Homo sapiens: one gene and its partners. The protein of the gene in region 1 purifies or fractionates together with the protein of each later gene. This does not show direct contact. Each region holds a gene or a part of one and is shown in the gene's direction. Other genes may lie near its edges.

Region 1 (2,481 bases):
TGCTCAAGGACCATTGTTTGATTCAATCAACAAAGAGTACTTAAGCCCCCATTGTGTGACAAGGGAGGTGTAGTGCCAGGTATACAGAGGTGAGACAAACAGAGTTGGGTCCTGCCCTGAGGGGCTCACAGCCCAGCAGGGGGAGGAAAGCAATGAAAAATACATGAGATTGGCAAATGGCTCACACCTGTAAATCCAGCACTTTGGGAGGCTGAAGCAGCAGGATCACTTGAGCCCAGGAGTCCAAGACCAGCTTGGGCAACATAGTGAGACTTTGTCTTTTTTTTTTTTTTTTTTTTTTTTGAGACAATTTCACTCTTATTGCCCAGGCTGGAGTGCAATGGCATGATCTTGGCTCACTGCAACCTCCACCTCCAGGGTTCAAGTGATTCTCCTGCCTCAGCCTCTCGAGTAGCTAGGATTACAGGTGCCGGCCACAACACCCGGCTAATTTTTTGTATTTTTAGTCGAGACAGGGTTTCACCATGTTGGCCAGGCTGGTCTCAAACTCCTCACCTGATGATCCACCCGCCTCAGCCTCTCAAAGTGCTAGGATTACAGGCATGAGCCACCGTGCCCGGCCGAGACTTTTGTCTTTACAAAAAATTTTAAAATTAGCTGGGCATGGTGGTGTGCTCCTATAGTCCCAGGTACCCAGGAGGCTGAGTGGGAGAATCGCTTGAGCCTAGCAGGTTGAGGCCGCAGTGAGCTATGATGGCACCACTGCACTCCGACCTGTGCAACAGAGTTCAAAAATAAATAAATAAATAAAAATAGAAAAAGAAAATGAATTAGGAATAGGAAGGAAAATGAATTAGGGGGATAAATTCAGAGAGAGGTACCTGCCAAGGACATAGCAAAAATGGCAGTGCAGTAGGGTGTGGAAGAGACGGTTTCCAATGCGCTGTTTGAGGCCGCTCAGTGCAGTTGGCATTTGAACAGACACAAGTAGCCACGATGCGGATGAAGAGCACTCTGGGTGGAGGAACAGTATGTGCAAAGGCTCAGAGGCAGGAACCAGCATGGCAGGTCCGTGGCACAGAAGGGTGGCCAGTAGCTGGCAGGAGCAGGGTAAGGGATTGCCTGAGTGGGGTCAGTGAGGTGGCACGGAAGGGGCCAGAGCATGGGGTCTCCAGGCTCTGCTCAGAGCCTGGACTTTATTGAGGGTAACATGAGCACTCAGAAGACTTGGGGTAAGGGAGCAACACCATTTGATTTTCATTTTCCCTTTTTTGTTTTTTGAGACAGAGTCTTACTTTGTCACCCAGGCTGGAGTGCAGTGGTGCAATCTCAGCTCACTGCAACCTCTGCCTCCCAGGTTCAAGTGATCCTCCCACTTCAGTCTCCTGAGTAAACTGGGATTACAGGTGTGCACCGCCACACTCAGCTAATTTTTGTATTTTTAGTAGAGACAGGGTTTTGCCATGTTGGCTAGGCTGGTCTTGAATACCTGGCCTCAAGTGAACCTCTCGCCTTGGCCTCCCAAAGTGCTGGGATTACAAGTGTGAGCCACCATGCCCAGCCTCTTCCTATTAACCATAAATTTTTTTTATAGAGATGGGCTCTCACTATGTTGGTCAGGCTAGTCTCGAACTCCCAGCCTCAGGTGATCCACCCAACTCAGCATCCCAAAGTGCTGGGATTATAGGTGTGAGCCACCTTGCCCAGCCTTGGTTTTCATTTTAAACTTCATGCACTGGGAGGGGCTGCATGACAAGTACTAGAATAAGGGGTATCATGGGGCTGTGGGAGCTCAGAGAAGGGAGAAAAAGTCTGCTCCAGAGCAGGGGGTCAGGGAAGGCTTTCCAGAGGAAGTGACATCCATGCTGAGTCTGAGGATGAATATTCAGATGCTGAGTAGGATATTCCCAGCAGAGGGAACAGCCCCATCAAAGGCACAGTTGCCTGACGGAGCCAGGCTGAGAAAGGCCTTCAATCCAGGAGCAAAGAGGCCAAGTGGAAGCAACTGCAGTGGGAGCAAACCCCCATGGAGGTCGTCTCTCCCAGTGCCCCCGCGGAGATCCGCTCTCCCAGTGCCCCCGCGGAGGTCCGCTCTCCCAGTGCCCCCGCGGAGGTCCTCTCTCCCAGTGCCCCCGCGGAGGTCCTCTCTCCCAGTGCCCCCGCGGAGGTCCGCTCTCCCAGTGCCCCCGCGGAGGTCCTCTCTCCCAGTGCCCCCGCGGAGGTCCTCTCTCCCAGTGCCCCCGCGGAGATCCGCTCTCCCAGTGCCCCCGCGGAGGTCCGCTCTCCCAGTGCCCCCGCGGAGGTCTGCTCTCCCAATGTCCCCGCTCTGACCCCAGCCTGCTGGGATGCGGTTTCCTTGCAGACTTCCCTGCCCCCTTCACCTGGGTCACAGGCTACTTTGCCATGGTGGTGGGCGCCAGCATGACCTTCGTGGTCCAGAGCAGTTCTGTGTTCACCTCGGCCATCACCCCACTCATCGGTGAGTGCCCATGTAGAGGTGGAGTGGGGTGGGCCAGGGCT
Region 2 (8,839 bases), on another chromosome or scaffold:
TATCAAGGGACCTAATGTGTAATATTTTACCCAGGCTGGAATACAGTTGTGCAATCTCAGCTCACTGCAACCTCCGCTTCCTGGGTTCAAGCGATTCTCCTGCCTCCAAGCGATTCTCCTGCCTCAGCCTCCTGAGTAGCTAGGATTATAGGCACTCACCACCACAGCCGGCTAACATTTTTTTAATTCACCCAGGCTGGAGTACAGTGGCGCAATCTCGGCTCACTGCAACCTCTGCTTCCTGGGTTCAGGCGATTCTCCTGCCTCTGCCTCCTGAGTAGCTGGAATTACAGGCACCTGCCACCACAGCCAGCTAACGTTCTTTTTAAAATATTGTTCTCAATCAAATTTTTATTTTATTTTTTATTGTATTTATTTATTTTTTTGAGACAGAGTCTTGCTCTGTCACCCAGGCTGGAGTGCAATGGTGCGATCTTGGCTCACTGCAACCTCCACCTCCCGGGTTCAAGTGATTCTTCTGCCTCAGTCTCCCGAGTAGCTGGGATTACAGGCACCAGCCACCATGACCAGTTAATTTTTGTATTTTTTAATAGAGACAGGGTTTCACCATGTTGATCAGGCTGGTGGCAAACTCCTGACCTCAGGTGATCCACCTGCCTTGGCTTCCCAAAGTGCTGGGAATACAGGCGTGAGCCACCGTGCCCAGCCCTCAATCAAATTTTTAAAAGAAGGCTGTCAATTAATGTCTTGGTACTACATTTTGTCTTTCTCAGCTAAAGTTCTATTATTGCTTATAAAACACTAATTTATTTTTTAATAAATGGGCAGTTATTGACTCAGTATAACATTAGAATGGTATCTAATTAATTATAGTTTAGATAATGTCTTATTTTGAATGTTTGGTATGAATTTAAATGGTAACTTCATATCTGAAAGCAATGATCAACTGAACATGAGTTCCCAATATTCTGTTTTTCAATTTTAGATAATTTCATAGAGTTTTTAAGCATATTCTAAGTTAAGGAAGAAATACAGTAATATAGAGATTAAGAATGCAGACTCAGAAATTTGAGTACCTGAACCCAAATGCTAGCTCTGCTGTGTATTAGCTTCGTGACCTTAAGCGAGTTACTAAATCTCGAGATTAAGTGAGAATAATAGTTCTCACCTCCTACTTGTGAGAATTAAATGAGATAATGTACAATGCCTGAAACACAGTAAAATTTTAAAGTTTGCTATTATGTTATTATTCTGTACTATTAAGTGGTTGTTGCATGCATACACATATACATAGACACACACAAGGTACAAAGAGGAGTAAAAAAGCAGGAACAATCGAACAATTCCGCCTACAAAAGTCTAAGAAGTTGTCATAAAAGGCAGTCCCTTGATCTGGGCTTTGAAGAATGATTGGAAACTTGTTTGGAAAAGAAATATATATGATTCCAGGCTGAAAAAGTAACATGAGCCAAGGAATTTGTATAGTCTTGAAACTAGGAAAGAAAATGAGGCAGAATTCTGACAGACCTGGAATGTCATGCTGAAAAATTTAGACTTATCCTTGAGGCAGTTAAGAGACATGACTTTTAGTAAACCTGGCAGTCGAATGATTAGATCTGCTTTGGAGAGTTAATTATGGTCATGGCAGAAAGAACAGATTGAAGCAGGCAGGGGAGAGATCAGAGATGGGGAGATCTACCTGAGAATGATTTCCTTGAGAGACAGCAGCCATCTCTGATGAGTATTTGCTGCACCTCCAAAAGATAGAGTTGCTTAGGCAGAATATAGACAGCATATTCCTGAATTTTATTTTTTGTGGATTTAAAACAACAAACTCTGTGACTTTGTTTTCTTTGATTGGTCTTTTTCTAATATGGAATTTCAGAATTACTTGTAATTAGGTCAGAGTTCTATTTAGGTTCTAATTTAAACATTTTAGAGTTTTAAGTTTTATGTAACTTGTCTATGAGAATAGTAACCATGGTTTTTGAAACCTTTGTCTTTCTCTATGGTATGTAGCACATAGCAGGTATTGAGTAAATTTGTTGTTAAGCTAAAATCCAAACTGAACTCCATAAATGAGACCATATCATTTATTTATTTTTTAATTTTAATTTTTGTTGTTGTTGTTGTTGACGAGTCTCGCTCAGGCTGGAGTGCAGTGGCACAATCTCAGCTCACTGCAGCCTCCGCCTCCCAGGTTCAAACAGTTCTCCTGCCTCAACCTTCTGAGTAGCGGGGACTACAGGTGCACACCACCACGCCTGGCTAATTTTTTATGTTAGTAGAGACAGGGTTTCATCATGTTGCCCAGGCTGGTCTTGAACTCCTGAGCTCAGGCAATCCGCCTACCCCTGCCTCCCAAAGTGCTAGGATTACAGGAGTGAGCTACCATGCCCGGCCATTTATTTATTTATTTATTTATTTATTTTTAATTAATTTATTTTTTTGAGATAGAGTCTCACTCTGGTACGGTATGGATTTAAATGGTAACTTCATATCTGAAAGCAATGATGAACTGAACCTAAGTTCCCAATATTCTGTTTTTCAATTTTAGAGAATTTCGTAAAGGCTGGAGTGCAGTGGCATGATCTCGGCTCACTGCAACCTCCATCTCCCAGGTTTAAGCAATTCTCCTGCCTCAGACTCCCGAGTAGCTGGGACTACTGGTGCATGCCACCGCACCCAGCTAATTTTTGTATTTTTAGTAGAGATGGGGTTTTGCCATGTTAGCCAGGCTGGCCTCAAACTCCTGATCTCAAGTGATCCGCCTCCCTGGGTCTCCCAAAGTGCTGGGATTACAGGCGTGAGACACTGCGCCTGGCCAACCATATCATTTAAATTACACAGAGTCTCTAATTCATAATATGTGGCTAATCCTTATATAATCCCCTGGGCCAGTGATTCTTAACCTGGGAGAATTGTTCCCCGAGGGGACATTTGGCAGTGTCTGGAGACATTTTTGGTTGTCTCAATGTCATAACTGGAAGAGGGGTTCTACGAGCATCTTGTGGGTAGAGACCAGGAATGCTGATCTACATTGCAGAGAACATCCTCCCTTGTGTCCCAACAAAGAATGATCTGGCCTAAAATGTGAATAGTGCCAAGGTTGAGAAACTGTGCTGTAGGCTATCAGTAATGTTGTTACAATCGCATAGAAGTGGTTTTTTTTTAATGCCCCAATAGTATGTTTCAGTTTCTTAACACTTAAAAATAAATAAAATTGTAAATAACTATGAATAGGTATAGGCTAGATAGGATAGAACCATTCCCACTGAAACGTATTTAGTGTAGTGAAATGAGGGAGACACTTCCTCTTGATGTATTGGCATTCTGTGTGCCACAGAATGTTGAAGGTGGGTATTCCTAGCATGTCAGTGGACGTGGGAACTGAAGGTACTAGATAGGCAGCTATGGTGACAGGTAGGAGGCAGCTACTGGATATTCTGCAAATAGATTGGAATCTTATTCATTCTAGATTTCAAATCTCAGTATTTTCAGGACAAATAGTATATGATACTATGGGCCTAATATTTGTGGTTTTACTACTTTTTGAAGGATATCAAGAGTTGATCCAATATTAACATTTCAGAAAGACTGAAAAGCTTTATTATCTAATAAGATCCAGAGCTTATTATCTAATAAGTTCAGAAAAATTATAGTAAAAAGCACCACATAATCCAAACATGAGTTTTGATATATAGATGAATATTTACATTTATTTATAAAAATAAATATATTTTTCATATATAATCGTACTTAGAACACAGTAGATGCTTGATGTATAGTTTCAATTTACTGAAGTTTTAAATGTCCTTTAAATTTTATTTTAATTATATTCTTTCAGTTTTATTTTAATTATATTCTTTCAGATCTACCAAATCTATTCAAAGCGATCTGCTGAGGATATTTATAAAATACTGACATCTTACAAAGCTAATTACCTAATTGTAGAGGATGCTATCTGCAATGAGGTGGGACCCATGAGAGGCTGTAGGGTTAAAGATTTATTAGACATTGCAAATGGCCACGTAAGTAACCATTTGGAAAGTTATATATATGTATATATATATATTTTTTTTTTAGAAAAATGACTTTAAACTTATAATCTTTAAACTTTATTTTTAGAACTTAACTAAGAATATAATTGAGTTATGTAATAATGGGGAAAGCTTCTTAAAAGTAGTTTGGAGTATTTTTTCAACATACAAAAGAAAATCTGGGCATTTTTGCAAAAATAATAAAAAATAATAATGGTATTACCAATACTGGAATTCCTTATTCATTGCCTGTACTTATTCAGGTTTCAACATTCATAAACAAAAGATGGCATAATTTGATTTGAATGATGATTTTATTTTATTATAATAATCTAAAGAGCAACTGGTTACCTTGTTATATTCTTATGTTGAGAAATTTCTTGTAATTTGATTCATATCTAGAAAAATTGCATGCTAAATTAACACAGTGCCTGTACATTGAGTCCCTATTATCCACAAAAACGAATGTATTAAAAGCCATGTTAGTTGTTAGGACTTGGCTGTATCTTAATTTCTATATTGATTTCGGCTGTTTTACCAAGCTGTGTTTTCCACAAGAAGACCACCTAAGACTGACGCACGCGCGCGCGCATGTGTCTTCCCCCCCAGCCCCCATGGCCTTCCAATGAAGGCAGTGTGTATATCTGAGACTTAATGCTAGCTGGAATGGATTCTTGACTCCTGAGAAAGCTGGGAGTGAGGGATCATAAGAAAAGTTTAGTAAGTCATTGTAAGTGGTAGTAGATATACTATTCAGGTTGCAGCCAAGATTTTTTCTGTCTTTTCCTAAATAATCATAGCTCTTTGTCTTATCCAAGATCAGTTTGGAGGTAAGAAATTACTTTTTGTGATTTCTACTTATCTTTTCCTCATGACCCCTTAATCTTGTAATATAAACTTACTCTGTTTTATGGTACATGTATTTTGAATTTCTCTGTTGGTACTTAGTGGCTGTGATCTTTGGTTTACTGGTGACACAAATGGAATTTTATGAAGCCTCGGGTACAGTTTCAGTAATTGGTGCTGTCTTGCTATCTGCTCTCTGAAGCCTTTCTATTCTGCTCTGATACCCACTTTTCTGCTGTTTTGAAGATCAGCTTACTTCTCCTTTCATGTCATGCCTGGCATGGACTTAAGCTAATCCATCCTTTTAAAGTTGGCTATCTGACATCTTTCATAGCCATTAAAATATTACTTAATTTTTTTTATAAAAACTTCTTCAAGCTAACTAAGCTATCTTAGTGAACATCATTCGGTGAAATTGTAAAGGTCTGCACTAAGTCACGAAAGTTTCCTTGCTTACTAAATAATTCTACACGAGAAGAGTGAATATATTTAGGAATATAATATGTTCATTTCTCAGCCTTGGTAGGGTGCATGATAAGGTCTTCGGAGCGATGATAATGGATTATGGAAACACTGCCTTCTAAATTTTAGGATTAAATCTTTTAAAAATTGGAAACCTTTGTGCTGGTTTCTCAGTGTCAATGAGAAGTTCAGGAGTATAGTGGGCATGGTGACTCACTTATGAAGAAGGCTTCTATTTGCTAACAGTGAGATGTTTTATAGACAATGTTTAGCAATAATGTGTTTTTTCATATAAATATACTCATTTGTATATTGATTGCATTTCTGCTATAAGCTTAATAAGCTTTTTAATATTATGTTTTATATCTTTTAATAGATGGTTTGTGAAGAAGGTGACAAGCTAACCTACTCAAAATATGGGCGATTTTGTCATGAGGTCAAAATTAACTATTCTCCATATGTGAATTATTTCACTAGAGTATACTGGAACAGATCCTACTTTGTATATAAAATCAACACTGTGATATCCTTCCAGTCTTGAAAAATAACAGAGCCTTCATTTCAAAGACTACCTGAAGTAAAATGCAGTTTTCTTCTACCTACTCGGTGTCTTTTGCAGATCAGAGTATGGACATTTGAAATATTGCTGCTTCTTTCCCCCTTCTGCTGTTAACTGGATCCAGAGTTCTGTGGGAAATAGAAGATCAAGCATTACTGTCCTTTGATTAAATGTGATATCTACCACTCTGCAATATTCCAGACAGGTGTCTTCCTTACCGTTACATGGTCTTTAACACTTTTACTGATTGCAATATTTTCCCCATAAAATCTTCATTCTATTATAATATTGATCTTGAATTTGAATATGTGCAAGGTCAGATACATTTCTCAAACATAACATTTAATAAATAATGTGATATAATTATTTAATAGAAAGAATAATTCCGACCTTCAAGCAAGTTTCTGAAGGTATTTTATGATGTATAACAACTGAAGTTTTACAATAAAAACTAATTTAAATGTTAGCTGAAGATATGTGGCATTTAAATTAAAATGGAAATTATATAAAGGAAAGTGATTTTTAAGGATATACATAAAGATATATTTAGAATTTTCATGATACTGTTCTCCTCATCTACTGCTTATGTTAAGTGAGAACTTTCTTAGTAATACATAATGCATGATGTTACTGCATTTTCTAAATGACTAGTAAGTGATTAGTTTTTTCACTTATGCCTATTAATTTGATACCAATTTAATCATGATAAAACAATAACCGTTAACATATATTTTGTTAAATGGACATTTAAAAGAATGTTGTTCAGGTTTTTTTTTTAAATACTGATATGGGGCATACAATCTATTCACATGTTTTCTACTGAAGTACTAAGTAAAAAAATTAAATCATTATCAGAATAAAAATATGTGTTCTAAAATTAGCAACAATTTCTGGGGATACATGCAGATGTTGTTAAACGTACCTCTGCATACAGATATATTATAAAACACAAGCAATGTTATTTATGAAACTGTGATGCAGTCTTCAACATCAAGAAAAAATGACAACTATAATAAAATTTACAACACAGTTTCACAGTCTAAATGCTATGTTCCTTTAAGTATTTTCATATTTTTAATCATTTATTAAGAGAAAATTGTGAAAAGTTAATTTGGCCTTATAGAGAGATTCAGGATAGATGTAGCCTATAGATGTGTCATTTTAATAAGTTGGGATACATGTTTAGTTTTTCCTTATATTCCTGTTCAGTGAACAGATTTTCATAATTCTCACTTGTTAAAGTGCTGCAAAAATTGCATTTTCAGTACTCTAAATTACTACATTAGAAGAGAGCATTTCTCCATTGTCTTTATTTTCTGTTATATATGTGTTGTAAAAGTACACTACATTAGAAGGGAGCTTTTCCGTTGTCTTTATTTTCTGTTATACATGTGTTGTTAAAGTACATGCATTCTTAGACTAACTCTCAGATGCTTTGCTCTTTTGGAGCTGAAGAATTGTTTGATGGTGATGTCATATATCTGATAGATTAGTTTCAGTGGTTCTCATTTCACTTTTATACGTAATTTCTTAACTATATTAAGATAGTTGCAGGCAGTGTACCTCAGGTTGACTCTGTACATCTGAATAGTGAGTCACTAGTATTTTGCTTCAAGCCTTCTGAAAATATAACCATAGTTACCTAAGCACACAGTGAATAGTCACATGGTAGTACTTGTGATTAGAGCATGTAAAACAATGTAATTGAAAAGTCAGCTTCCATATTTTGTAGGGGAAATAGAACACCCTACTTTTTATCTAGTGTGAAATATTTAATCGAATTTTTGTTGATTTATATTATGTTACCTGTGCTGAATTAGGTTTGGTACTTGTGTTTTGTTTGACATATTAGTAAGTTGCTTTTGCTTCTTTCTGTCAACTTATTTTTTAAATAAAATTGATCTGGAAAAATTGTTAATGGGATGTTTTAAATAATGAATTTTTCATCCAGCATCAGTTGAAAAGGAAAAGAAAGCTTCATTATGGAAATGACAATATTGAATATGACAGATAAGTTTATTTGCTTCTGTTTTAACTGCAGTTAATAGTACTAGACAACTTTAAGTGGAAAGCATTTAGTTTATTTCTTCACTTATTTGTAGAGTGAACAAATGATTCACAATTCTACAAGTAATTCCACTTAGGTAACTTACAGTTGTTAGGTTTGACAATAAAGATCTACTATGAGAGGAGAAGAATTTATGGGTTTTGGGTGGAAGGAATTTCTCAAAGAAATAAAAAATGTTCTTTGCCCTTGATACTGCAAACCCACTGATACAAGTGCCTTGAATTTATTATTATTATTATTTTTTATTTTTTTGAGATGGAGTTTCACTCTTGTCTCCCAGGCTGGAGTGCAATGGCGCGATCTTGGCTCACTGCAACCTCCGCTCGCTGCAACCTCCGCCTCCCAGGTTCAAGTGATTCTCCTGCCTCAGCCTCCGGAGTAGCTGGGATTACAGGCACCTGCCACCAAGCACGGCTAATTTTTGTATTTTTAGTAGAAACGGGGTTTCGCCATGTTGGCCAGGCTGGTCTCGAACTCCTGACCTCAGATGATCCACTCACCCCAGCCTCCCAAAGTGCTGGGATTACAGACGTGAGCCACTGCGCCCGGCGCAAGTCTTTGTTAAAAGTAGAGATGGAGGCCAGGCGCAGTGGCTCACTCCTGTAATCCCAGCACTTTGGGAGGCTGAGGCAGGCAGATCACGAGGTCAGGAGATCGAGACCATCTTGGCTAACACGGTGAAACCCCGTCTCTACTGAAAATACAAAAAATTAGCCGGGCAGGGTGGCGGGCGCCTGTAGTCCCAGCTACTCCGAGGCTGAAGCAGGAGAATGGCGTCAAGCGGCGAGGCGGAGCTTGCGGTGAGCCGAGATCATGCCGCTGCACTCCAGCCTGGGCAACAGAGCAAGACTCCATCTCAAAAAGAAAAAAAAAGTAGAGATGGGATCTCTAGCCTCCTAAGTT
Region 3 (8,839 bases), on another chromosome or scaffold:
TAGACTGTGGATTATATAGTCGTCTTGATTCTTATTTATATTCTGATTTTTGAACTGTTTTATAGCATATTCACACCTCCACCAGACTGCTTGAAGAAGAATGAAAGTGAAAATCAGTTTTCTTGTTCATTAACAGGTCTTCTGAGGGTTTAATACTTAAACTTCTGGCTGGCTGTCATGGGGCTGCCTGATTCTTTGATTTCACTTTATCCTACCTTTCCCTCTCTCATGAATGCAATGAATAATGACTCTAATATCTTTCTTCTCAGACGAATTAAATTGTGACTTTATTAAACTGTAATAGGCTTGCCTAATTTATTAAATTCCACCTTTTCTTTCCCTCTACTCCCTCAAAACTACTTCCTAGGAAAACTCTTGCAATCACTATTAAGAGAAAATAACTTGTGACTTAGAAAGTATTCGTATTCAACAGATAGTTGAAATCTTTGCAGATTGGGACATTGTAAGATTTAGACAAATTTCATGATCATTTGAGTTTTAGTTGCAAATTTATAATGATATAGGAAAAAATTAGGGTCCTGAGCTCCTTTTTCTTCCACATCAGCTTGTCTGTTCCACCAGACAAGGGCTCTCTTAAGTGATTGTTGTTCTGAGGCTGAAACCAAAGAGCTAGGTTGCTGACAGAGCCATGAAATCATGCTTTTCTCTTTTTAAAAACAACAGATTAAAAAAAAAAATTCCTTCTCTGTTAGTCACTTCATGTTAGTATTTATCCATGTTTAAGATTTACATTTAAAGCAAAAGTCTTCAAAGGGAAAACATGAGTTTTACTTCTCTTACAGAAGGAATTCTGTAAATTTCTACAAGTATTTTTAAATATTAGTGGGTCTCTTTCCTAATTAAGATCTTGGAAAGTTACGTGCAACTCTGACTGTTGTAACAAGCATTAAATATGAGCTTGCTAAATAAAATGAACCTTATATAAATTTACTTGTAATTCAGATAATACATAATTTTTTACATATCTTTGCTTTATGTGTTATACTGTCTTTTTCTATAAGTGGTTACAAAATTGGGGAGGAGAAATAATTTGCAGATTGATCCTCTAAATAATTAAGAGGAATCTGGAGTTAAAGTCTTTCAACACTGGAATTTTATCTGCATAGTGTTGTACCTCTATAACGTTGGATGAGTTACTTAACCTTTCAGTGCCTGTAAAACAGATAATAATAGTAATTACTTGCCTCATAGGAGTTGTTAGTAGGATTAAATGTGATAATTTAGCATAGATATGTAGCATAGTGCCTAGCAGATGGTAAGCAATGAAATGTCAGCTGATTTTTAGTATTGGCATTATCTTTGAAGAAGGGCCCATTTTAAGATTTGTTTCTCTTACCTTGCTAATAAATGTGTTAGTGTGAAAAGTTAAATAGTTCCAAGGTTAACGTGGAAATAAAAGTCAAATAAATATGTTTCTTTAATAAAGAAAAATTCACTTGCCTTTGAACATGACAGGTGTTTTTTAAATCTTCAGTTGCGTTAAGGTAATGAACTCAGATTTATTAACTGGTTTGTGTTTGTATACACAATTAATGTTAAATGCAAAATCCTTTAAAGTCTAAATGACTATTGATCTGTATTTTAAAGAATAATTTTTGTAAGCTTATTTTGATACTAAAATGCATTCCACTGTCATATTATCTAAACTTCTGGGAAATGCTAGCACAATTTTGTCTCTTTGGAGTTATATTTATTTTCATGATGAATATTTTAAAACTTAACAACCTATTGTAAACTGTTATTTTTGCAGTTATGTTTGCCTAACACACAAACACACCAAGCATGTTCCTGTCCCCAAGGTCTTTGTACTTTTTGTTGCCTTTACATGAAATCCACTCTCCCTAATTATGGCCCAGCCTTGGAGCTCTCAGGTCTGTCAGGGCTCTGCAGAGGATTACCTGGTTTTGGGGAATGTTTTCTTCTAAAATGTGGCTCTATCTTTATTATGTTTGTTGTTTTCCCTCTACCTGGCATTATGTTATATACTCGTGCTTGTTTAAAATCACTTTCCCATTAATATCCAAGGGTAGAAACTTTGTTTCATTCACTGCTGATTATCCTACTGTGTATGATAAAGCACAGGGCCTGGCACATTGTAAGCAGTAATAAATATTTGTTAAGTGAATGTAGGAATGTTGTTGATCAAATTAAAACAGTTTTGTTGAGGAGATGAAGATTCTGTGAACCAATTTTTAATAATCATTTTACGTGAGGTTATTTGAGGTTTTTATGCTCAGAAGTGAACCATTTGAAAAGATGTAATTTATAACTTTTCACCCCCCACCAAAAGAAAAGAAAAAGAAGATTTAAATTTAGAATACTTGGTACATAGTGTGAACTGAGAGTTAAGAAAGGCCTGATTGAGAATACTGACTCAGCCTAAAATATCAGTGATACTGTGCAGTAATTTATCCTGTTTTCTTACCAGGAGCTTGCTCAGTGCCTAACACTGATAGTCAGTAAATGTTTGTTGGGTGAATGAATGAGCCTGTAAAATCAGTAAAGTCATGAACTAATTCCTAGTTTCTTACAGAGTATCCTAAGGACCCTTGAATAAATGCTTCTGGAATAAAATGGATGGAAATTTGCAACAGAATCACCTGGAGGGCTTGTAAATACTGTCTGTTAGGTTTACTTTTTCCACCCTGTGTTTGAGGTGGAGCAAAGGACTCTTAACTTCTAACAAGTTCTGAGGTAGTGGATGTGATGCTGTCCTCCTTTCAGAAGCTTTGCTGTATATCTGTATTCCTGTTGAGGTGATTCATGTTAATGTATTGAAGGTTTTGAGAGCACTGCAGTAGAGGAAGCTGTTTAACTCTTAACTATTTCTGACTTACTTGGCCCTAGTCCTCTCCCTCACTTGTTCGTATGTATGTATGTATGTATGTATGTATGTATGTATGTATATATGTATGTATGTGTGTATGTATCTATACTCATAAAATTGTTTTTTTTTTCTTTTTTCTGTATGCTTGGGTAGGTAAATACTGTGTCAGGAGTGAAGCCTTCAAAACTGAGCCCTGTTGCAGAGTTGGAAGATATTATGATAGTTATGATCTGCATGAAAGCATTTGTATACATTTTTGAGTCTTGCAAATTGTAATTTGGAATAAACGGCATGTATAACAATAATGATTTTATGAAAATTGATTCCAAAATGATGAAATGATTTCTAAGTAACATTTTTCCCCTTTATTCATTTATCACTTTCAGTCATCGTCGATGGTTTTAATCTGCCAAGCCATATTTCCAGAACTTTAGGTACTTGACAAAATTAGGAAATAATATTTTGTCATGAAAAGTTGAGTTTTCTCTAGATGAAGATTGAGTCTTAGCTAGTGTCAAATTTTTCCTAGTTGTATTTTCAATTTTAGGCTAATCTAGTCTCATGGTACAGCATTCTACTTTGCATGTCTTAGATTTTGTTGACTTAATTGTATTTTAAAATATGATTGTACTGATTCTGGTCTTTTAGAGTGATGGTTTTGATACAAGATGTGGCTAATCAATGGAAAAGGGATGTTTGAGGAAGAAGTGATGATGGTTATGAACTCTAGAGATGTTAAATGTAGCACAAAATTTGAATCTGGGATTCTTTATGTTCCCTAAGGCTGTGGATCTTTCCATTGATGAGTCCAGCTTGACAGGTGAGACAACGCCTTGTTCTAAGGTGACAGCTCCTCAGCCAGCTGCAACTAATGGAGATCTTGCATCGAGAAGTAACATTGCCTTTATGGGAACACTGGTCAGATGTGGCAAAGCAAAGGTAAATTTTTTTCCTGATTTGAAAAAAGCAGTTCCTTTGTTTGAAACTATTTTCTCAATTATTTTTTGCTGATTTTATGTGGAATTTTTCAAATACATGACAAAGGATAAAATTGAACTTAACCCATTACATCTATTTGTGAAACTGGGGAGAATCTGTGTCCCCAAAGTATAATATTTCCGTAGTTCTGCTATTTCCCAGATAATGGATAATCCTCAATACCTGTTTCTTTTTAAAGAGAGAAACAGTGTTTTCATGGATGTGTTTATTATTAAATAAATTTTAATTTAGTTAATATGATACTGGCTATAATAATCTGACTATATGTTGTTCACCTGTTGATCGATTTCAAATGCTTCCTTTCCTGAATTCTGATACTCCACCAGTGCAAAAGACACCATTCACTAGGGGTAAAAAGAAACTATATTAAATGTCTCCTATTGAGTATAATACATGTTTGTATTTCAGAAATACTAATATAGGCAAAAAATAGGCCTCAGAATTGAGTCTGCTATACGTTTTTTTTTGAGACGGAGTCTCACTTTGTCGTCCAGGCTGGAGTGCAGTGGCGTGATCTTGGCTCACTACAACCTTCACCTTCCAGGTTCAAGTGATTCTCCTGCCTCAGCCTCCTGTGTAGTAGGGATTACAGGCATGTCCCACCATGCCTGGCTAATTTTTTGTATTTTTAGTAGAGATGGCATTTCACCATGTGGGCCAGGCTGATCTCGAACTCCTGACCTCAAGTGATCCACCCGCCTCGGCCACCCAAAGTACTGGCATTATAGGCGTGAGCCACAGCACCCGGCCAGCAATACGTTTAATGTAATGTTTGTTTCCAGAGTTTAAATCATAAGGGGCAAATGCTAATGACAGGAACATAAAAAAGTAAATTTGCTGAGGAAATCTTAGGAGTGTGTATGTTAGACATCTTCACTGTAGGTAAGACTTTGAAAGTTGTTGGATGTGTGTGTGTATGTGTTTTGGTTTACATTTCATCTGGATGTAAATGTATTTTCCTGTTTTTCCCCTTAGGGTGTTGTCATTGGAACAGGAGAAAATTCTGAATTTGGGGAGGTTTTTAAAATGATGCAAGCAGAAGAGGTGAGTACTTAATATGTTAATGATGTATTTGTTCCAAATCTGAAATTCTTCATTGTAAGTAGAGAATGTTGGATTATTTTATATACTATTGAGAGCAATATTTTATTCAGAATGGAAATCAGTTGTCTCTGTTTAGAAACATAATTGGAAAGCCTGTAATTGAAAAGGTCTAAATTGATGTTGTTAGTATTCTAAAGGATTTTGAGCTTTACTCATTGTTTATAGCAGAAAAAGGCTTATAGCCACTTATTTGTAGATCTTATTATTTTCAGAAATTAGTGTTGTGGTAATTTTAAGGATTAGTAATTAGTATATTTGTACCTTGGAATATGTCTTCTATCAAATTTTTTCAACTTCACATAATTCCAAGTAAGGGTGGCAGGGAAAAGATTGCCAAGTAAAATAACCTACAAGATATTCTCGGCTAAAAGTATTAAAGATGAGTTCATTTTAAATACTTTCTTATTATAAAAAGAAGCTTCATTCTGCAAATGTCGTGTTCTCCCCAAATCCTCTGGATTTCTCAGGTAACCTGCCAAAACTCCAGTATGCGATGCAAAGTGGGAACTCATTCCAAGAGGCGTGGCAGTGAAGGGATGAATAGAGAAGAGGGTTAGCAGTTGAGGGAGGATTAAAAGACCTGGGTTACTAGCATGTTTGTGGATACCAAAAGGGAAAAATTGGAAAAGCAAGTGAGAGAGCAGCTGATGGTAATGAAGTCCTGCAGTGGTTGGTAGGAGGGAGAACAGATTTTTCCTCAAAAGGAAGCATAGAGAGAACGGACCTTTTCAAATAATAAACAGGTTTTTAAAAATAGAGAATTTCTGTTCCTCACTGTGTGACCTTGGGCATTGTGTAAAATCTAAGTCTCAGTTTTCTCAGTGAAGGTGATTATTTACCTTATGGGAGAGTTGTATGGTTAACTTAGGAATTGCTTTGTCAAGCACTTAGCAAGCCCCTGGCACTTGATAAAGCTTAGTAAATATAGCTAATTGTGGTGACACTCTTCTTCAATTTATCAAGGCACCAAAAACCCCTCTGCAGAAGAGCATGGACCTCTTAGGAAAACAACTTTCCTTTTACTCCTTTGGTATAATAGGTAAGAGAAGAGTGAGTATGTATATATTTTTATTTGAGTTTTGTTTTTTGAATGTGAAGGGTGGTGGTATTCTAGTTTTATTTATTGGCTTTTCTTTTTTTTATTAAGTTTAATACTTTTTAAAATTATAAGACTACTAGTAGCCATTGTTCATTTCAACAAAGAAAAAATAGAACTCTGATTCTTGTAATCAGAAAATATTTCTTGAAACATTTTAGTATTTGTCTTTCTAGTCTTCAACAAGAATGTAATACGATAGTTTTATGGACTGCTTTTCTATTTTTATTTCACATATCCTGTCATAAAACTCTTGTCATTAAATTGATGGTCACATAAAACAAACATAAAGGTTGTATAGTTTTCTATTTTGTGGGAAAACATATAAGAAGACCTCTTCTAGACATTTAGGATTTTTTGAGGGTTTTTTTTTGGTCATATAAATACTTCTTTAGTGTGGTGTCTTCTGGTAAATACCTCTCTTTTTTAAGGAAAAATTCTTAGAAATAAAATTATTTAGTCAAAGGGGATCCATGTAACTTTTAAATTTTTGGCCAGCTTTAAGTATTGTCATTAACTTCAACTGTAAATAAAAGAGTTCTCATTATTTGATTTCACAGTTCATTATTAGGGAAACCGAATGCTTTGTCATGTGTGGGTTGATCATTTTTATTTCATTTTATGACCTGCCAACGATTTCTTTTGTCCCTTTTCTTGTGTCTTGAGTCTTAGATTGATAAAAGCTTTTTATATGACTAGATTATCAATCTTTTTGTTGTATAAGTTTTTTTTTCCCGTTTAAGTTGCCTTTGAGGCATGTGGAATAAACTTGGTAAGAGGACAATATATGTAATTAACCATTTATGCCTAGTGTTCCATTATTGGAATGCTAAGCATGTGGGACTTATTTATATCCTACTGCTCAAGGTCATTGCCAAGGTCTGGTTGCAAAAATTCAAAAAATTGCAACCTCAGACACAAATGGGTTAAAACATCCCCTTTTCCTTGAGATTCTGTTATCACCCTCCTATTGATAATCTCTGCAATTAAGTTGGTTTTGTTCTGTTCCTAAAGATTTTCCCAACCTCATGTTTATAAGAACATTTATTAAAACATTGTTGTATAGTTTTTTATTTTTGACATTTTACTATTTTATTTAAAATTTATTTTAGTACATGGCTTAAGGCAGAGTTTTAACTTTTTTACTCAAGTTAATTATCCCATTAATTCTGTAATCCAGTCTTTATTCATTGGATTGAAGTCACGTTTTTATCACACATTAAGCACTTGCATTAATTTTGGAGTCTTTTCTCCTTTAATTTTCTTACCGTGTTAATTATTCCAGCTAGTTTAGTATTTCAAAGTCAGTAATACAATTTTTTTATTTGAGATGGAGTCTCATTCTTGTTGCTCAGGCTGAAGTGCAATGGCGCAATCCCGGCTGACTGTAACCTCCACCTCCTGGGGTTCAAGTGATTTCCCTGCCTCAGCCTCCCGAGTAGCTGGGATTACAGGTGTGCACCACCACACCTGGCTAATTTTTTTATTGTATTTTTAATAGGGACGGGATTTTACCACATTGGCCAGGCTGGTCTCAAACTCCTGAACTCATGTGATTGCCCACCTCAGCCTCCCAAAGTGCAGGGATTACAGGACTAATGCAATTTTAAAGCAATATTTCTGTTAATACAATATTAGTTGAAATAACTTTGTAAATAGTAATTCTGTTTATCCATCTATCTTCATTGTAAACATAAAGTAGAAGGTAGGAAGTTATCTTAGTTATTTTTGTTTTACTGGTGTGTATGCCCTCATAACTTCTTCCGTTTGATTATTGCTCATTTTCTAGAAATTTTATAGTGAATTTGATAGATCGAATGACATTCTAGCCAATTAAATCTTTGTAGTTTCTATTAGCACTATACCATAAACCATTTCAAATTTAGTAATAAATATGTTTCAACTTTACGATCTCTGGTTATATGTTAGTATATTACATTGGACATAATTTTTCTTGCCAAGGTCAAGAGCTAGATCAGGGGTCAGCAATTGTTTTTTTTTGTTTTTTGTAAAGAACTAGATAGTAAATATTTTAGTCCATATGGTCTCTGTTGGAAATACTTTACTTTGCCATTAGCATGAAAGCAATCATAGAAAATATGTAAATAAATGAGTGTGGCTATGTTCCAACAAATTTCATTTACCTAAGCAGACAGGAGACCCACAGATTATAGTTTGCTGACCCCTGGTATAATCCTTTGGACATAATTTCTTTCATCATGATAGTATTTGGGATAGGATCTTAGAAGGTTGCTATTTGGATAATTATTCTTTAGTTATATAAAGATGAAAAAAAAAACTTGTCTTAAATGTTCATATTGATTTGCAGTCTTGAGATAGCTTATTTTATCAAACCTCTCGTGAATCTGTTTGCTTTTTCCTCACAAACCTGCTTGTGCGCCCCTTTCCCCCTATTCTTTTCAAAGATAAAAGGTTAAAGCAAGGAGTATTGGTTTAATTGATTTTTAAATTTTTGAAATGCCATAAAAGTAGTGATTTTTAGATGTTAATGCAGTTGTAGGTGCTTAACGTAAGGCACATCACTTTTTGAGCCAAGTCGTAAGTGTCCCTTTGTGTGTAGTATGGATTTGCTGAGAAGTGTCTGGATATTGTGTTATGGAAAATAAAGTTTTAGGGTTTAATTTTGCATATTTGATATTAAATAGAAGACCTATATGTTTGCTGCCACCTTCTTTTTTTCATTGTATGAACATACTGGTAATTTTTAAAAAAATAATAAAATATTACTGCTTTAAGGGATGGTAGGAGCAGTGTCAACCAAAAGTAAAACT
Region 4 (8,552 bases), on another chromosome or scaffold:
GTGAGACAAGGATAAAGTAGATTTTGTCAGTGAAATTGTGACAAGAATCGCTGATGGGTTTAGAGCCTAAGTTTGCGAGGAGCACTGGAAGAAATTAAGATTGTTGAGATTGGAAAGGGTTAGCTATGGGGGGAACAGGAGGAGGTGACTCCATGACAGACCAAATATTCAAAGGACTGTGTAGAAGAGGAAAAAGACTTTGTTAGGGCTCCAGAGGACAGAGCCAGGAGTCAGACAGGGCCTTGAACTCAACCCACCGAGATCTGCAAACTTTGCAGGATGCACCAGATGTCTTGTAGCCATGGGTCAAGGGGGGACCCTGGGTAAGAGACTGTAATAGATGACCTCTAAGGCCATCTCATGACATGTGTGATTAATGTATGTACCTGTCCTCTCTTTTTGACAATTCTACAGATTATTCAGGACAGGGAGTTGACCAACTGCAAAGAGTGATTGACACCATCAAAACCAACCCTGACGACAGAAGAATCATCATGTGCGCTTGGAATCCAAGAGGTTGAAAGAACCCCGTCGTCTTCATTTATACTAACCATACTCTTAGAGGGAAGCAATCTGGTTTTGTGCAGAGGCACCTGAGGGAGGCAGGACCCTGGGAACTTCCCCCAGCCACATGGTTGATTGTGTGACGTTGGGCAAGTCACATTTTGCTGCACTTTCACCTTCAGATCATGAGGTTGGGCCCAGAGGATTTTTTTTTTTTTTTTTTTTTTTTGAGACAGAGTTTTGCTCTGTTGCCCAGGCTGGAATGCAACGGCGTGATCTTGGCTCACTGTAACCTCTGCCTCCTGGGTTCGAGTGATTCTCCTGCCTCAGCCTCCCAAGTAGCTGGGATTACAGGCATGTGCCACCATGCCCGGCTAATTTTGTATTTTTAGTAGAGACGGGGTTTCACCATGTTGGTCAGGCTGGTCTTGAACTCCTGACCTCAGATGATCTGCCTGCCTCAGCCTCCCAACCAGATGATCTTAATTTGTGTATTTATACTCATTCTTACACCAAAAAGGGTTTTAAATTGCCTAGAAACTACATGTAAGATGTTAACATTTTAAATGGAAGCAGATGAAGTTCCAGCTCGCTGCCACCTCACTAACATTTTTAACAATTATATTGTAAAATTCAACTCTACCAGGGTGTAGAGCCAGGTGTGGTGGCTCACACCTGTAATTCCAACAACTCCAGAGGCCAAGGCGAGAGGATCATTTGAACCCAGGAATTTGAGGCTGTAGTGAGTCATGATCACGCCATTGCACTCCAGCCTGGGCAACAGAGTGAGACCCTGAATATTTAAAAACAACAACAACAACAAAACTCTATCAGGATATCATAAGTACTTAGAGTGAAATACTTGCATCTGTAATAGAGACTTATTTTTTTTTTTTTTTTGAGACACAGTCTCACCCTGTTGCCCAGGCTGGAGTGCAGTGGTGTGATCTCCGCTCACGGCAACCTCCATCTCCCAGGTTCAAGTGAGTTCCCATTCCTCAGCCCCAGAGCTGGGACCACAGGCGCGCGAATTTTTGTATTTTTAGCAGAGACGGGGTTTCACTATGTTGGCCAGGCTAGTCTCGAACTCAAGTTGGCCTCAAGTGATCTGCCCACCCTGGCGTCCCAGTGTTGGGATTTCAGGCATGAGCCACTGTGCCTGGCCATGTAATAGAGACTTTTAATATAGGAGGGTGTACCAGAAGCACCAGTTTCCTGTGGCAAACAGAATTATTCCTGCTGTATTTGTAATCTGGTGCCACGAGGTAGCCCAGATCCCTTCAGCTCTGATGGAAGAGCATTGCTTCAGCCGTAAATGGACACCTGCAGAAACCTTGCACCGATGGATAGTCTCCCTCAGCTCCGTGCCATCGCTGCAGAGGCTGTTATGGACATCACTGCAGCCCAGTGGCTCTCTCTCCTGGTCTCCACCATATGAGTTGGCTTCTGTTTCTCTCCTGTTTTACTTTGCCTTTAGCTGTGGTCTTTCAAACCACCATCCCTCCTTATCTTCCTCTGCTGGTTCCTCAGATCTTCCTCTGATGGCGCTGCCTCCATGCCATGCCCTCTGCCAGTTCTATGTGGTGAACAGTGAGCTGTCCTGCCAGCTGTACCAGAGATCGGGAGACATGGGCCTCGGTGTGCCTTTCAACATCGCCAGCTACGCCCTGCTCACGTACATGATTGCGCACATCACGGGCCTGAAGGTGGGCTGTCTCGGGAAGGGTGACTTGCCAGCCTACCACACTGAGCTCTTCAGTTCTTTAATATGGGAAAACAAATTGCAGAGTTTAGTCTCTGATTAGCTTTTAAATTTGATATGTGTAAGTAAGAAATGAACCAGCTTTTACTTTGAAACCTTCCTCTTCTGGAAGGTTTTCTGGCCCTGTGGTATACGCACTAACAGATCTATACAGGTTGTTTGTGATACAGCTTCTATGGATTTTCTCAAAAGCTATGCTGAGGTTGGGTATGGTGGCTCATGCCTGTAATCCCAGCACTTTGGGAGACTGAGACAGGAGCAATTGCTTGAGGTCTGGAGTTCAATACCAGCCTGGGCAACATAACAAGATGCTGTTGCTACAAAAAAATGGAAAAGCTACACTAAATTATTTTTTTAAAAAAAGCCTTGCGGTGTCTGCATATTCTAATGTTTTTAAATGATGTTTTAAAGAATTGAAACTAACATACTGTTCTGCTTTCTCCCCCGGGTTTATAGCCAGGTGACTTTATACACACTTTGGGAGATGCACATATTTACCTGAATCACATCGAGCCACTGAAAATTCAGGTAAGAATTAGATGTTATACTTTTGGGTTTGGTACCTTCTCTTGATAAAAGGTTGACTGTGGAACAGGCATCTGCTCAATGCTGTGTCCAAGATAAAGATGACTGCTCCAAATGTGGGGCTTCAGTTTAGGGAGAAGTGGTGGGCAGGTGGGCAGGACAAGGCAGGCATCTGCCTCAGCAACCATGGGCACTTAACATGTCAGGTGCTGTGAGGTACTAAGCACCAGTACCAGAGAGGGAAGAGCCACATTCAAGCCAGGGGATTGTCCAAAAGGGGGCATTTTAACTCATTTTAACTTGAAGGAGAATTGAAGTGCAAATGTTTTTCCTTTTCTTTTTTTTTTGAGATGGAGTCTTTCTCTGTCGGCCAGGCTGGAGTGTGCCGTGGTGCGATCTCAGCTCACTGCAACCTCCACCTCCCGGGTTCAAGCAATTCTTCTGCCTCAGCCTCCCAGGTAGCTGGGATTACAGGCACATGCCACCACACCCAGCTAATTTTTGTATTATTAGTAGAGATGGGGTTTCATCATGTTGGCCAGGCTAGTCTCAAACTCCTGACTTCAAGTGATCCACCTGCCTCAGCCTCCGAAAATTCTGGAATTACAGGCATAAGCCACCACCCTGGCCATAAATATTTTTTGTTAATTTTACATTAAGTACAATATTTAGGTCCAAACTTCAAAAGTCTGTTGAAATCCCTAAGTTATAGCAGCCAACAATTGATATGAAATGGCAATAAAAATGTAAGTTCATCTGCTTCATGAGCCTTAAGGAAAAAAACTCAGAACCAGACACTTTTTAGCCCCTTCCAGGTTAGATCCAGGTTTTAAAAGTTACTCCTTTGAGGGAGTTTGGCTGCTTTTGAGTGGAGGTGACTTCAGGCTTATTCTCTCTGGCTCTCTGCTCTGGTCGTTTTTAGACATAGTAATAGGTTGTGACCTGTCTTCACATCCTAATTGCCACTGTCTGTTCATCCCAGGAATCCTGGCTTTCATCCCTTTCTGTTCACTGTCCATGCATGTCATCTTTCCTTCTTTCTGCCAGGGACAGATGGGTTAGGGATTGTGGAATTCAAGTAAACGTAGAGCTACTATGAGTTACAGATTGACTGTGTTCCTGTCTTTAATAAATTTGCCAAGAGTGGTTATAAGAACTTACACCTGATGAGGCACCAGGCTCCTGATGCTGTGTAATGTCACAAAATACCCCTCACTCTCGATCTGTGCAAGAGAACAGCTGGTTGCGCTCCAATCATGTTACATAACCTACGGCAAGGTATCGACAGGATCATACTCCTGTAAAATAGAACTTTGTTGATCACATCCTGTGTACTTGTTTCACGGACATGAGGAGCAATTACAACAGGTCGTACAATTATGGCAAAATAATGGCCTTATTTTGTTTTTAGCTTCAGCGAGAACCCAGACCTTTCCCAAAGCTCAGGATTCTTCGAAAAGTTGAGAAAATTGATGACTTCAAAGCTGAAGACTTTCAGATTGAAGGGTACAATCCGCATCCAACTATTAAAATGGAAATGGCTGTTTAGGGTGCTTTCAAAGGAGCTCGAAGGATATTGTCAGTCTTTAGGGGTTGGGCTGGATGCCGAGGTAAAAGTTCTTTTTGCTCTAAAAGAAAAAGGAACTAGGTCAAAAATCTGTCCGTGACCTATCAGTTATTAATTTTTAAGGATGTTGCCACTGGCAAATGTAACTGTGCCAGTTCTTTCCATAATAAAAGGCTTTGAGTTAACTCACTGAGGGTATCTGACAATGCTGAGGTTATGAACAAAGTGAGGAGAATGAAATGTATGTGCTCTTAGCAAAAACATGTATGTGCATTTCAATCCCACGTACTTATAAAGAAGGTTGGTGAATTTCACAAGCTATTTTTGGAATATTTTTAGAATATTTTAAGAATTTCACAAGCTATTCCCTCAAATCTGAGGGAGCTGAGTAACACCATCGATCATGATGTAGAGTGTGGTTATGAACTTTAAAGTTATAGTTGTTTTATATGTTGCTATAATAAAGAAGTGTTCTGCATTCGTCCACGCTTTGTTCATTCTGTACTGCCACTTATCTGCTCAGTTCCTTCCTAAAATAGATTAAAGAACTCTCCTTAAGTAAACATGTGCTGTATTCTGGTTTGGATGCTACTTAAAAGAGTATATTTTAGAAATAATAGTGAATATATTTTGCCCTATTTTTCTCATTTTAACTGCATCTTATCCTCAAAATATAATGACCATTTAGGATAGAGTTTTTTTTTTTTTTTTTTAAACTTTTATAACCTTAAAGGGTTATTTTAAAATAATCTATGGACTACCATTTTGCCCTCATTAGCTTCAGCATGGTGTGACTTCTCTAATAATATGCTTAGATTAAGCAAGGAAAAGATGCAAAACCACTTCGGGGTTAATCAGTGAAATATTTTTCCCTTCGTTGCATACCAGATACCCCCGGTGTTGCACGACTATTTTTATTCTGCTAATTTATGACAAGTGTTAAACAGAACAAGGAATTATTCCAACAAGTTATGCAACATGTTGCTTATTTTCAAATTACAGTTTAATGTCTAGGTGCCAGCCCTTGATATAGCTATTTTTGTAAGAACATCCTCCTGGACTTTGGGTTAGTTAAATCTAAACTTATTTAAGGATTAAGTAGGATAACGTGCATTGATTTGCTAAAAGAATCAAGTAATAATTACTTAGCTGATTCCTGAGGGTGGTATGACTTCTAGCTGAACTCATCTTGATCGGTAGGATTTTTTAAATCCATTTTTGTAAAACTATTTCCAAGAAATTTTAAGCCCTTTCACTTCAGAAAGAAAAAAGTTGTTGGGGCTGAGCACTTAATTTTCTTGAGCAGGAAGGAGTTTCTTCCAAACTTCACCATCTGGATACTGGTGTTTCTTTACAGATTCCTCCTTCATTTCTGTTGAGTAGCCGGGATCCTATCAAAGACCAAAAAAATGAGTCCTGTTAACAACCACCTGGAACAAAAACAGATTTTATGCATTTATGCTGCTCCAAGAAATGCTTTTACGTCTAAGCCAGAGGCAATTAATTAATTTTTTTTTTTTTGACATGGAGTCACTGTCCGTTGCCCAGGCTGCAGTGCAGTGGCGCAATCTTGGCTCACTGCAACCTCCACCTCCCAGGTTCAAGTGATTCTCCTGCCTCAGCCTCCCATGTAGCTGGGATCACAGGCACCTGCCACCATGCCCGGCTAATTTTTTGTATTTTTTGTAGAGACAGGGTTTCACCATGTTGGCCAGGCTGGTCTCAAACACCTGACCTCAAATGATCCACCTGCCTCAGCCTCCCAAAGTGTTGGGATTACAGGCGTAAGCCACCATGCCCAGCCCTGAATTAATATTTTTAAAATAAGTTTGGAGACTGTTGGAAATAATAGGGCAGAGGAACATATTTTACTGGCTACTTGCCAGAGTTAGTTAACTCATCAAACTCTTTGATAATAGTTTGACCTCTGTTGGTGAAAATGAGCCATGATCTCTTGAACATGATCAGAATAAATGGCCCCAGCCACACAATTGTAGTCCAAACTTTTTAGGTCACTAACTTGCTAGATGGTGCCAGGTTTTTTTGCACAAGGAGTGCAAATGTTAAGATCTCCACTAGTGAGGAAAGGCTAGTATTACAGAAGCCTTGTCAGAGGCAATTGAACCTCCAAGCCCTGGCCCTCAGGCCTGAGGATTTTGATACAGACAAACTGAAGAACCGTTTGTTAGTGGATATTGCAAACAAACAGGAGTCAAAGCTTGGTGCTCCACAGTCTAGTTCACGAGACAGGCGTGGCAGTGGCTGGCAGCATCTCTTCTACAGGGGCCCTCAGGCCACAGCTTACCTTGGGAGGCATGTAGGAAGCCCGCTGGATCATCACGGGATACTTGAAATGCTCATGCAGGTGGTCAACATACTCACACACCCTAGGAGGAGGGAATCAGATCGGGGCAATGATGCCTGAAGTCAGATTATTCACGTGGTGCTAACTTAAAGCAGAAGGAGCGAGTACCACTCAATTGACAGTGTTGGCCAAGGCTTAGCTGTGTTACCATGCGTTTCTAGGCAAGTCCCTAAACCTCTGTGCCTCAGGTCCTTTTCTTCTAAAATATAGCAATGTGAGGTGGGGACTTTGATGACATGAACACACGAAGTCCCTCTAGAGGTTTTGTGGTGCCCTTTAAAAGGGATCAATTCAGACTCTGTAAATATCCAGAATTATTTGGGTTCCTCTGGTCAAAAGTCAGATGAATAGATTAAAATCACCACATTTTGTGATCTATTTTTCAAGAAGCGTTTGTATTTTTTCACATGGCTGCAGCAGCTGCCAGGGGCTTGGGGTTTTTTTGGCAGGTAGGGTTGGGAGGGCCATTTTGTCACTGCCTCAGCTGGGCATCTAGGAAGCATTAGCACTGTGAGGCTTTCTCGGTACACTTTGTACCTGGAAAACAATCCGAACAGGTCCATGGGACCACAACTGAGGGAGGTGGGACACACCCACCTCCATCCAAGAACCAAGACATCTAAGGAAGCAAACCCAGATGCAGAACAATAAAATACATTCCATACTCCCCACCCAAAAAATAAAATCACCAAATGAGGTTCCTTTCAGCTATACAAATGATTTAGATGAAGAGCAGAGGATTTAGAATCAGGTCAATCTGTGTTCAGGTTCTGCGTCAGCCACTTTGTAGTTCTGAGGCTTGGGGCAAGTGACCGAGCTCTGCTGCCTGACTTCCATCGCCTGTTATTGAACAGCTGTGACAGGCAGGCTGATATGGTTTGGATTTGTTTTGGATTTGTGTCCCTGCCCAAATCTCATGTTGAACTGTAATCCCCAGTGTTGGCAGCAGGGCCTGCTGGGAGGTGATTGGATCATGGGAAGTGGTCCTTCATGAATGGTTTGGCACCCGTTCCTTGGTGCTGTTCGAGATAGTTATCACAAGATCTGTTGTTTAAAAGTGTGTAGCACCTTCCCCCCTCACTCTCTCTTCCTCCTGCTCTTGGCCATAAGAAGTGCTTGTTCCCCCTTCACCTTCCATCATGATTGTAAGTTTCCAGAAGCTGAGCAGAAGCCGCTATGCTTCCCGTGCAGCCTGCAGAACTGTAAGCCAATTAAACCTCTTTTCTTTATAAATTACCCAGTCTCAGGTATTTCTTTATAGCAGTGCAAGAATAGACTAATACAGTATAAAATAGTTCGGCTATATTAAAAGACAGCACCTGTCTACTCACTACCCCCCTGAAGAGAAAAACGGTTACCATTATTACTGAAGCCTCCTATGTACCCTCAAGGGTCCCATTTATCACTCACAGTCCTGAATTTGGTGTTTCCCTTTCCCAGTGAATGCTTTTGTGCCTTTGCTATATACTTGCAGTGATCTTTCTGTGAGACATTTAATTCCAGGAGACAAGAAAAGTGGAATAAGCAAAACCCTACGTGTGCAGATGACTGGAAGGAGATTGTCCTAATTTAAAAGCCCACCTGGGGCGTTCTGAGAAATAAGATGAAATAAATGTGTGTCTAGACCATGGAAGACTCCAGTACTGGGAAGAGGAGATGGGACAGAAGTACAGAATACACGTGATGAAAACAGGAGCTGGTTAAGGGAGTAGTGTGGCTGCAAGCCTTACCTTCAATGTACTTAAAAAATAAAGTGAGTCAGCTACCAGACCCTATCTTAGGAGGCAAAATGACCGTTCATTGGTGGGTCTCTGTGAAAGCAAAACCAA

What was found.
Region 2: the proteins of SLC34A1 (region 1) and DPY19L4 purify together in Homo sapiens (affinity purification with mass spectrometry; one large-scale study listed by BioGRID and IntAct). This does not show direct contact.
Region 3: the proteins of SLC34A1 (region 1) and ATP2C1 purify together in Homo sapiens (affinity purification with mass spectrometry; one large-scale study listed by BioGRID and IntAct). This does not show direct contact.
Region 4: the proteins of SLC34A1 (region 1) and TYMS purify together in Homo sapiens (affinity purification with mass spectrometry; one large-scale study listed by BioGRID and IntAct). This does not show direct contact.

The regions. Positions count from the first base shown.
Region 1 is NC_000005.10:177,394,410-177,396,890, forward strand, and holds part of SLC34A1 (sodium-dependent phosphate transport protein 2A), read left to right. Parts: intron 1-2,323; coding exon 2,324-2,440; intron 2,441-2,481.
Region 2 is NC_000008.11:94,784,061-94,792,899, forward strand, and holds part of DPY19L4 (probable C-mannosyltransferase DPY19L4), read left to right. Parts: intron 1-3,833; coding exon 3,834-3,992; intron 3,993-5,685; coding exon 5,686-5,850; 3' UTR 5,851-8,839. UniProt on the Homo sapiens protein: Probable C-mannosyltransferase that mediates C-mannosylation of tryptophan residues on target proteins.
Region 3 is NC_000003.12:130,950,190-130,959,028, forward strand, and holds part of ATP2C1 (calcium-transporting ATPase type 2C member 1), read left to right. Parts: intron 1-3,631; coding exon 3,632-3,787; intron 3,788-4,822; coding exon 4,823-4,891; intron 4,892-5,914; coding exon 5,915-5,990; intron 5,991-8,839. UniProt on the Homo sapiens protein: ATP-driven pump that supplies the Golgi apparatus with Ca(2+) and Mn(2+) ions, both essential cofactors for processing and trafficking of newly synthesized proteins in the secretory pathway.
Region 4 is NC_000018.10:668,658-677,209, forward strand, and holds the end of TYMS (thymidylate synthase), read left to right. Parts: intron 1-414; coding exon 415-516; intron 517-1,660; exon of another isoform or gene 1,661-2,034; coding exon 2,035-2,210; exon of another isoform or gene 2,211-2,722; coding exon 2,723-2,794; exon of another isoform or gene 2,795-4,202; coding exon 4,203-4,340; 3' UTR 4,341-4,921; downstream 4,922-8,552. UniProt on the Homo sapiens protein: Catalyzes the reductive methylation of 2'-deoxyuridine 5'-monophosphate (dUMP) to thymidine 5'-monophosphate (dTMP), using the cosubstrate, 5,10- methylenetetrahydrofolate (CH2H4folate) as a 1-carbon donor and reductant and contributes to the de novo mitochondrial thymidylate biosynthesis pathway.